Homo sapiens: one gene and its partner. The protein of the gene in region 2 interacts with the protein of the main gene of each other region in a pairwise test. Each region holds a gene or a part of one and is shown on either strand. Other genes may lie near its edges.

Region 1 (3,776 bases), on a different chromosome or scaffold from region 2:
GGCTGGAGGTGGGACATGCGGGCAACAATGCTGCTCTGTAAGGCATTGAGATGTTTATGGGTATGCATATCTAAAGCACAGCACTTAATTCTTTACCTTGTCTATGATGCAGAAACCTTTGTTCACGTGTTTATCTGCTGACCTTCTCTCCACTATTATCCTGTGACCCTGCCACATCCCCCTCTCTGAGAAACACCCAAGAATGATCAATAAATACTAAGGGAACTCAGAGGCCAGGATGGATCCTCCGTACGCTGAACGCTGGTCCCCTGGGCCCCCTTATTTCTTTCTCTATACTTTGTCTCTGTGTCTTTTTCTTTTCCAAGTCTCTCGTTCCACCTAACGAGAAACACCCACAGGTGTGGAGGGGCAACCCACCCCTTCAATTAACCATGCGGCCAAGAGTCAAACCCACTAGTTTGCCTTCAAAGTCCAAGATCTAACTATGACATCAAGACACTGTCCCTTCAGTGCCCTCCCTCTCAGGCTCTAGTACGAGCCACTGGGGCCCCAGCAATCCAGTACATGCTTATATGCTTATTTCTTCTCCAAGTGTGTGTTGTTCTCTTTGCCGCTGGAGATATATCTTACTCTGCCTTATATTCTACTTATTTACTCACTAATCTCATTTCAAACATCCCCCTCTCCACCTCACCCCGAATCCAAAGTAGAAGGGCATGGCCTCAAGTCTAGGGACCACACCGTTTGAGGCTGGACACATGTGCAACACTGGAACCTGTCTTTCTAATAAGCTTACCAAGTAATCCTGATGGAAATCTTCACCCTAAGTCACCACCTCTACAACTAGGGGTCTCAGAGATGAAAGCCAGGGCAGAGGGAGACTCTTACCTACCCCTTGGGAGACGGAGAAAGACACAAGAATCCTAAAAGCAGCTGTGGCTCCAGCATCTGGGAAGGGAATGGGACAGAAAGTGCCTCCAAGATGGACTCTGTCCTACTCTTCTTTCAATCCCCAGACCTTAACACTGGGCATGGCACGTAGTCGGTGTTTAGTAAGTGCCTGCTGAGCAGCTTGTTTCACTCATGGCACCATCCCTGGCAGGGAAAGAAATAGCAGCAGAGTCACCAATGCATGTAACCTGCCTGCAGCAAGAAGTGCCCCAGACAGGAGGCTGCAAAGCTTTAGAGCAGGGCCTTCAGCCTAATCCAGGTAGGTGGGTGGAAACCAAACACAGCCTGCTCCAGAGCTACAGGGCAAGTGCTGGCGTAGAAGCCAAAATATGTTATTTCCTTGTGCGGTTTCATGAGACTAGGCAAATCAGCACAGAACCTGGAAGGATCCCAAGTGTACCACTCTTCCTCTCTGTATTAAGTGTCCTGGAGCAAGAGCAAGCTGCTGTCACTTTGTGAGCTAGATACATACTTACTAACTTTCAAGATAAGTACAGGGTGCTCCTGAAACACATACTGTAAGAAAGGGAAGGGGGATGATGAAGAAGGTGACATACTTTGCAAGAAGCCAGAGGACCCACTACCAATATTCCAAGTCAAAGAAAGCTTTGGACAACAGATGGGATTTCTTGAGCTATTTGAACAAAGATGTTAATTCATATCTAATCCCTCCATTGCCTCATCTTCTAAGTCCTGTCCCACTCCAATTACTCCTGCACAAAGCTACCAATACAAGGGCCCCAAATTCTTCCTTTGTCAAATCATGGGCTGCTCAGATCCCAAGTGGCTGCCAGTACTAACCTCAGGCCCACGCTTCAGGTTACGCCCACCGTCACATCCACAATAGACACCTTGACCCTGGTGTTTCCAAAGGGCTCCCTTCAAACATCTACTGCAAGCACAACACACCACATGTACACTTTATCTTGGTTTTTTTTTTTGCTAAAGGACAGGCAGAGAGCTAAGCCTCCAGCACAGCAGCTGGAAGGATTAAAGGCTCAGATGCTGAGAAGGCCCACTTTCTGGTAATTCCACCAAACCTCAGCCCAGGACAGAGAGAAACTGCCAAGGGAAGAACTATGAACAAACAGGCTCTCCAACTCCCTCAGTGACAAAGCAGGGGAAGGGAAATTCCCAGTGAAGTGAAACATAACTGCTCACCGCAGCAAAGATGGGAGACAATGACTTGAGATAGACAGCAACTGCAGTTGCACTTCCAGATTTCTTTACATCTTGCTCCAAAATGTAGGTCCCTCTGAAGTTTTAAAGTACATTTTAAGAAAGTATTAATATCTCACTAACTATGAAATACTAGAAACTGATTAAAGTCAAGTCAAAGAGGAAGAGTTTTTTATCTCGGGTTTAATAGGTTGTGCCAAAAACAGAAGCTCTGAGTATTTACCAGCTAAACCCCACTAGGTCCGAGAGCCACTGAGAGTAGCATCTGTCTCGGGATAAAATGGGGTGTTTAGTTGAAATGCAGACTATTAATGGACCTAATTTCTGGGATGAAACCCATTAATCTGCATTTTTAACAAGCTTTCCTGGGGACTGATCCTTCAAACAAAGTTTGAGAACAGTTCTGTTCCTGGAGTACTCTGATCCTGGAGTACCCGCCTAGTCAATTCATGTCACTTTCCAAGGACACTTCAGGCTTCCCAAACACATTGGAAAATAACACATGTAAGGTGAAAGCTCCCCAAATGCCCTTTTCATATTGCTTTGAATTGATCTACCCCAGCTGCTGTGCAGGTCCCTGGCTTATTTCTGTATCCCCAGAGCCTGGAACACAGTTGGTACTCAATGAAGAATTGCTACCAGCCTGGGCAACATAGAGAGGCCCTGTCTCTACAAAAAAAAAAAAAAAAAAAAAAAAAATTTAAATTAGCAAACGTAGTGGTGCACAACTGTAGTCCCAGCTACTCGGAAGTCTGAAGCAGGAGGATTACTTGAGTCCAGGAAGCTGAGCCTGTAGTGAGCCATAATCATACCACTGCACTCCAGCCTGGGCGACCTTACATGATTTTGAGCCTGGAGTCCAGAGAACTGCATTTCAATACTGGTTTAAAAGCAAATATGGCCCGGGCGTGGTGGCTCAAGCCTGTAATCCCAGCATTTTGGGAGGCCGAGGCGGGCGGATCACGAGGTCAGGAGATCGAGACCATCCTGGCTAACATGGTGAAACCCTGTCTCTACTAAAAATACAAAAAAAATTAGCCAGGTGTGGTGGTGCACACCTGTAGTCCCAGCTACTCGGGAGGCTGAGGCAGGAGAATCACTTGAACCCGGGAGGCGGAGGTTGCAGTGACCTGAGATCATGCCACTGCACTCCAGCCTGGGTGACAGAGACTCCATCTCAAAAAAAAAAATTAAAAATGAAAAAGCAAATATGGTGATCAATCACCTTCATTTCTTCTTTTCTTCTTTTGATGGAACTTCTCAGAATCTTTCTTTTTAAAGAAGAGCTTTGTAGTGGATTTTTGTCATCTGGAGTGCTTTTGGCGGGGGCATGGGGGATACCCAACATCTGAGACCACGTTTGTGAGCTGGGTGGGAGGCAGCCCTGCCTTGCATTGTGAGGTCAGCTGAGGCGCCCAAACTGTGTCCTGGTGGAGCTGAGCCATGCTGGGCCAATCAGAAGCTTTCTTCTGGGCCTGGGCCTGCGCACTCTGAAGCAGGACAGTATCTAATTCATTCCAGCAATGATGGCAGCAATGCCAGTAGCCACATCCAGGGTCCTGTTCTGGCAGCCGCAGCCACCCACCCATCAGGGGTCCTGTGGCATGTCCTAGATTCCTAAGCCTGGCTAGCCAGCCTTGCTGCCACTTACCTAAGCCACCCAGGGACCATCCTTTCAAGAAGTC
Region 2 (3,500 bases):
TCTTACTGAATGGTGTTTTCTCCTTGAATAGAAACGTGTTCAGTTGATCATCAAATACTTAAAGGACCTTGAAAGCTTGTCTGGCTCTAATTAAAGCACAGCTACTTGGTGATCTTAACAGAAACCTGTCCTCTCTCGGAGAAGTGCAACCTCTTCCACTGCGCTGACAGCTTTGTGGGAAGAGGGAGAACTACAGGAAACAATGAAGAAGTCAGAAGGTGCCTGTTTACCCAAACGTGTCTGCAGCCATGTTCCTGCATACCCCGGTTAGAAGAACCGCTGAAGCACTATGCTATCAGCTTAAAATCTAGGTGACTACAAAACCCTGGAAAGTTTGGCACATAAACTACATTAGGCAAGATCAAGGATGACATTTGTTCTTTGATTAATCATTATCACTGCCATTCAATGTGACCTGCCAAACATACACAACTTACATCTTTACAGCAATCCTAAATCCTAAGATTTAGTGATGTTAGTATGCTTAAAGAACACAAGCCAGTTACTAGCTAGTTCCAAAATCTCAGCCAGAAATATGTGTTAACACTGGATTTGCCACATCTAGAAGCACAATCACTCCAGTTATGGTGTCTAAACGAATGTCTAAAGTTAGGTGAATGGAATGTAATCAGACTATACTAAACTTGGTTCCAAAAGTTATAGAAGTTGTAAAGTTAGTCTAAACTAAAGCACTTAAGTGAAAAAGTGTAACTGCCATATCAGAAAGAAGAGCTCCCACCATGAAAATGTCACTGAATGTATTTTTTATTTTTGAAGGTATTTTTAAAATCTGGGCACACCATATCTATCTGTAGGACCCTGGGTCCAAAGGTCCTACATAACTGATATGAACCATAATTCTCCATATTAACAAAGGCTCGGAAATTGAAACCAAGATCACCTAACTCGCTCACTTTGGCCAATATAGTACGAATTTCAGCTTCTTTACAAGAGAAGAGTCCTGAGATGTTAATATGCAGCAATTCTGCTGATGTGCATTTTAACTTTATGCACCAAGGAAGAAAGGCTAAGGAATTCACAAAAGTAAAATCACCCCCTGAAAAACAGATGCTGGTGATTGGAGAAAAAAGAGCAGTAGAATTAAGGTGTTTTATAAACCAGAGAGTGTTTTGTTTCTGATAGGTAAAGGGATTTCTTCATATGTTATTTTAATAAAAGGGAATTTCATAGGTAAAAACCAATATTCAAAATTATAAAACAAATAGAACTGTTTGTGCACAATCACTGCATCAAAAATTTGCAAGAGACTCAACAGAAATTCTTTAGTTGGCAAATGTGGTTTGAAGGGGTAATAAAATCTTTTTATGGCTAAACCAAGAGTCTTGTTTCCTGTTGGCCCAAAAACAGATGTTTCATTTCCCAGATAAGTAGGTTCTCCACTGTAAAGAAATATTCTTGTATAGTTGGTTTCTATGTTCTTGAACTCTGCTCCAAATTCAGCCAACTTGTTAAAGGTCCTTAACACAAATTTGGAACAGTCGTAGGAATCAAACCATGTCTCTGCCCCCTTTTCTGGGCTGGCTTTTACATTCCATGTCTCATAATAAATTCCTGTTTCATTGTCCTGTTTCACCCACTTTGCCATTTGGTTGAACATGTTTCCTAGTTTAAAAAAACAAAACAAAGTCACCTAGTGAACAAAGCTAATCATGTTAATTTTTTTTTTTTTTTTTTTTAAGACAGGTCTCCCTCTGTTGCCGAGGCTAGAGTGCGGTGGTAACATCACAGCTCACTGCAGCCTTGACCTCCTGGGCTTAAGTGATCCTCCCACCTCGGCCTCCTGAGTAGCTGGGACTACAGGCGCTGGCCACCAAACCCAACTAATTTTTTAATTTTTCTTTTTTTTAATTTGAGACCAGCCTGGGCAACACGGGGTCTTGCTGTATTGCCCAGGCTGGTCTCAAATTCCCAACCTCAAGTGATCCTCCTGCTTCAGCATTCTAAAGCACTGGGATTATAGGTTTGAGCTACCATGGCTGGCCTAATCATATTAATTTTAAGTAAAATGTTCTAACTTGATTAAGACTGGATGCCTGAGTAAACAATGGTTTTGAATTTCCACACCTGCATTTCACAACAGGAATCCAAGCTCAGCCAATTTTATTCCATTCTTCAAGGCACAAGATATTTCTGAATTATAAACATTAGATATAATAGGTGTATAAGGAGAAGTCATCTTACATACTAATTCTATAATCATTTAAGCTATAGTCAAAGCGAAATTATACAAATGCAGAAGCTCTCTTTCTCTACCCAACTCACCAAATCTTGGATTCAGAGGCAAAAGAGAAAAGGAAAGCACAAAAAGAATTGCGAAAGAGGAAAAGCAGAATGGGCAAAGACAGTGTAAGGAAAATGGAGGTGTGGGAAATGTGGAGCTTCACTGTTGCAAAGCATGCTACACATAAAGTATGAATGGCTGCCTGAGGAGCCACTGCTCTAGAAGGCTGGCTATTACTGTTATGAGAACAAGCACCATACCCCATCCACCTTGTGTGTTTGGTACGTTTCTTTCTTCCCTGTACTTGGAGTTGCTGGGATGCTGCTGATGACCTCTCCACCTGCCACGTTAAGTCCTTCCAACAAATCAACTAAACTGGAAATGTTTTAGGCCGAGTTCATACTCCAGGATGGCTAACCCTCTCTTCTACCATCTTGTACTAGACCAGAAGAATCTTTCCAAATATTCAGAAAACACTACTCTGCATGGTTACAACTCTCATCTTGGGCATTTATAATGCCTAATAGAACTGGGCCCCAAACACTGCATCCTGTCACTGTGTGCAAACCTCTTTGGTTACTCCAACTTGAGTCCATAAAATAAATACTTCATGTTCTGTAAAATGAATAGAGTGACTGCCTTTATCAATTTTATGGAATTAAAATTGTAGAACAGAATAAAGCCTGTTGTATTAGAACTGGGGATACTGTTCTTAGCATTCTTCAACTTTCAAATGCCACCACTATCCTTATGAGACAAGAATGCTTCAAAACACTATTTTGTCAATCACAGGATTATTCACAAGGCAAATAAATGACTTAAAAGATTTAAGTACTGGCATATTTTGAACTATTTTACAAAAAATAGTGATCACTTATTCATATGATCATTGACTTTATGTCAGAAGGAAGGATTTTCAGATAACGATGTAGGTGGAAATGGGGAAAGGTGTGAACTGGCCTGGAATGAAAGAAAGAACCGCTAATGATGGACTTTTGTATTGTTGGTATGGTTTAAGGCACATTGATTAGAAAGTAGCAGGAAATATTAGAAAACAACATGGTGCATTCGGCTAACAGATCCTTGTTACATTTAAAAGACCTCAGTTTTATTCCTGATTCTGCTACATCCAGCTCTTTGACCTTGAGAGGCAAGTAAGTCATGTTACCTGGCTGAGCCTCAATTCCTTATTTGCAGAGAATGAGTATCTTATCCTCTCCACTGAACCGTGAGTTAACATACCTCCAAATCATTTGTA

What was found. Proteins that work in one complex are often made in the same cells at the same time.
Region 1: the proteins of CLN5 (region 2) and PROM1 interact in a protein complementation assay, tested with the Homo sapiens proteins (one study listed by IntAct).

The regions. Positions count from the first base shown.
Region 1 is NC_000004.12:16,077,248-16,081,023, forward strand, and holds part of PROM1 (prominin-1 isoform 1 precursor), read right to left. Parts: intron 1,057-3,776; exon of another isoform or gene 1-1,056. UniProt on the Homo sapiens protein: May play a role in cell differentiation, proliferation and apoptosis. Binds cholesterol in cholesterol-containing plasma membrane microdomains and may play a role in the organization of the apical plasma membrane in epithelial cells.
Region 2 is NC_000013.11:76,998,581-77,002,080, reverse strand, and holds part of CLN5 (bis(monoacylglycero)phosphate synthase CLN5), read right to left. Parts: intron 1,624-3,500; coding exon 1,112-1,623; 3' UTR 1-1,111. UniProt on the Homo sapiens protein: Exhibits palmitoyl protein thioesterase (S-depalmitoylation) activity in vitro and most likely plays a role in protein S-depalmitoylation.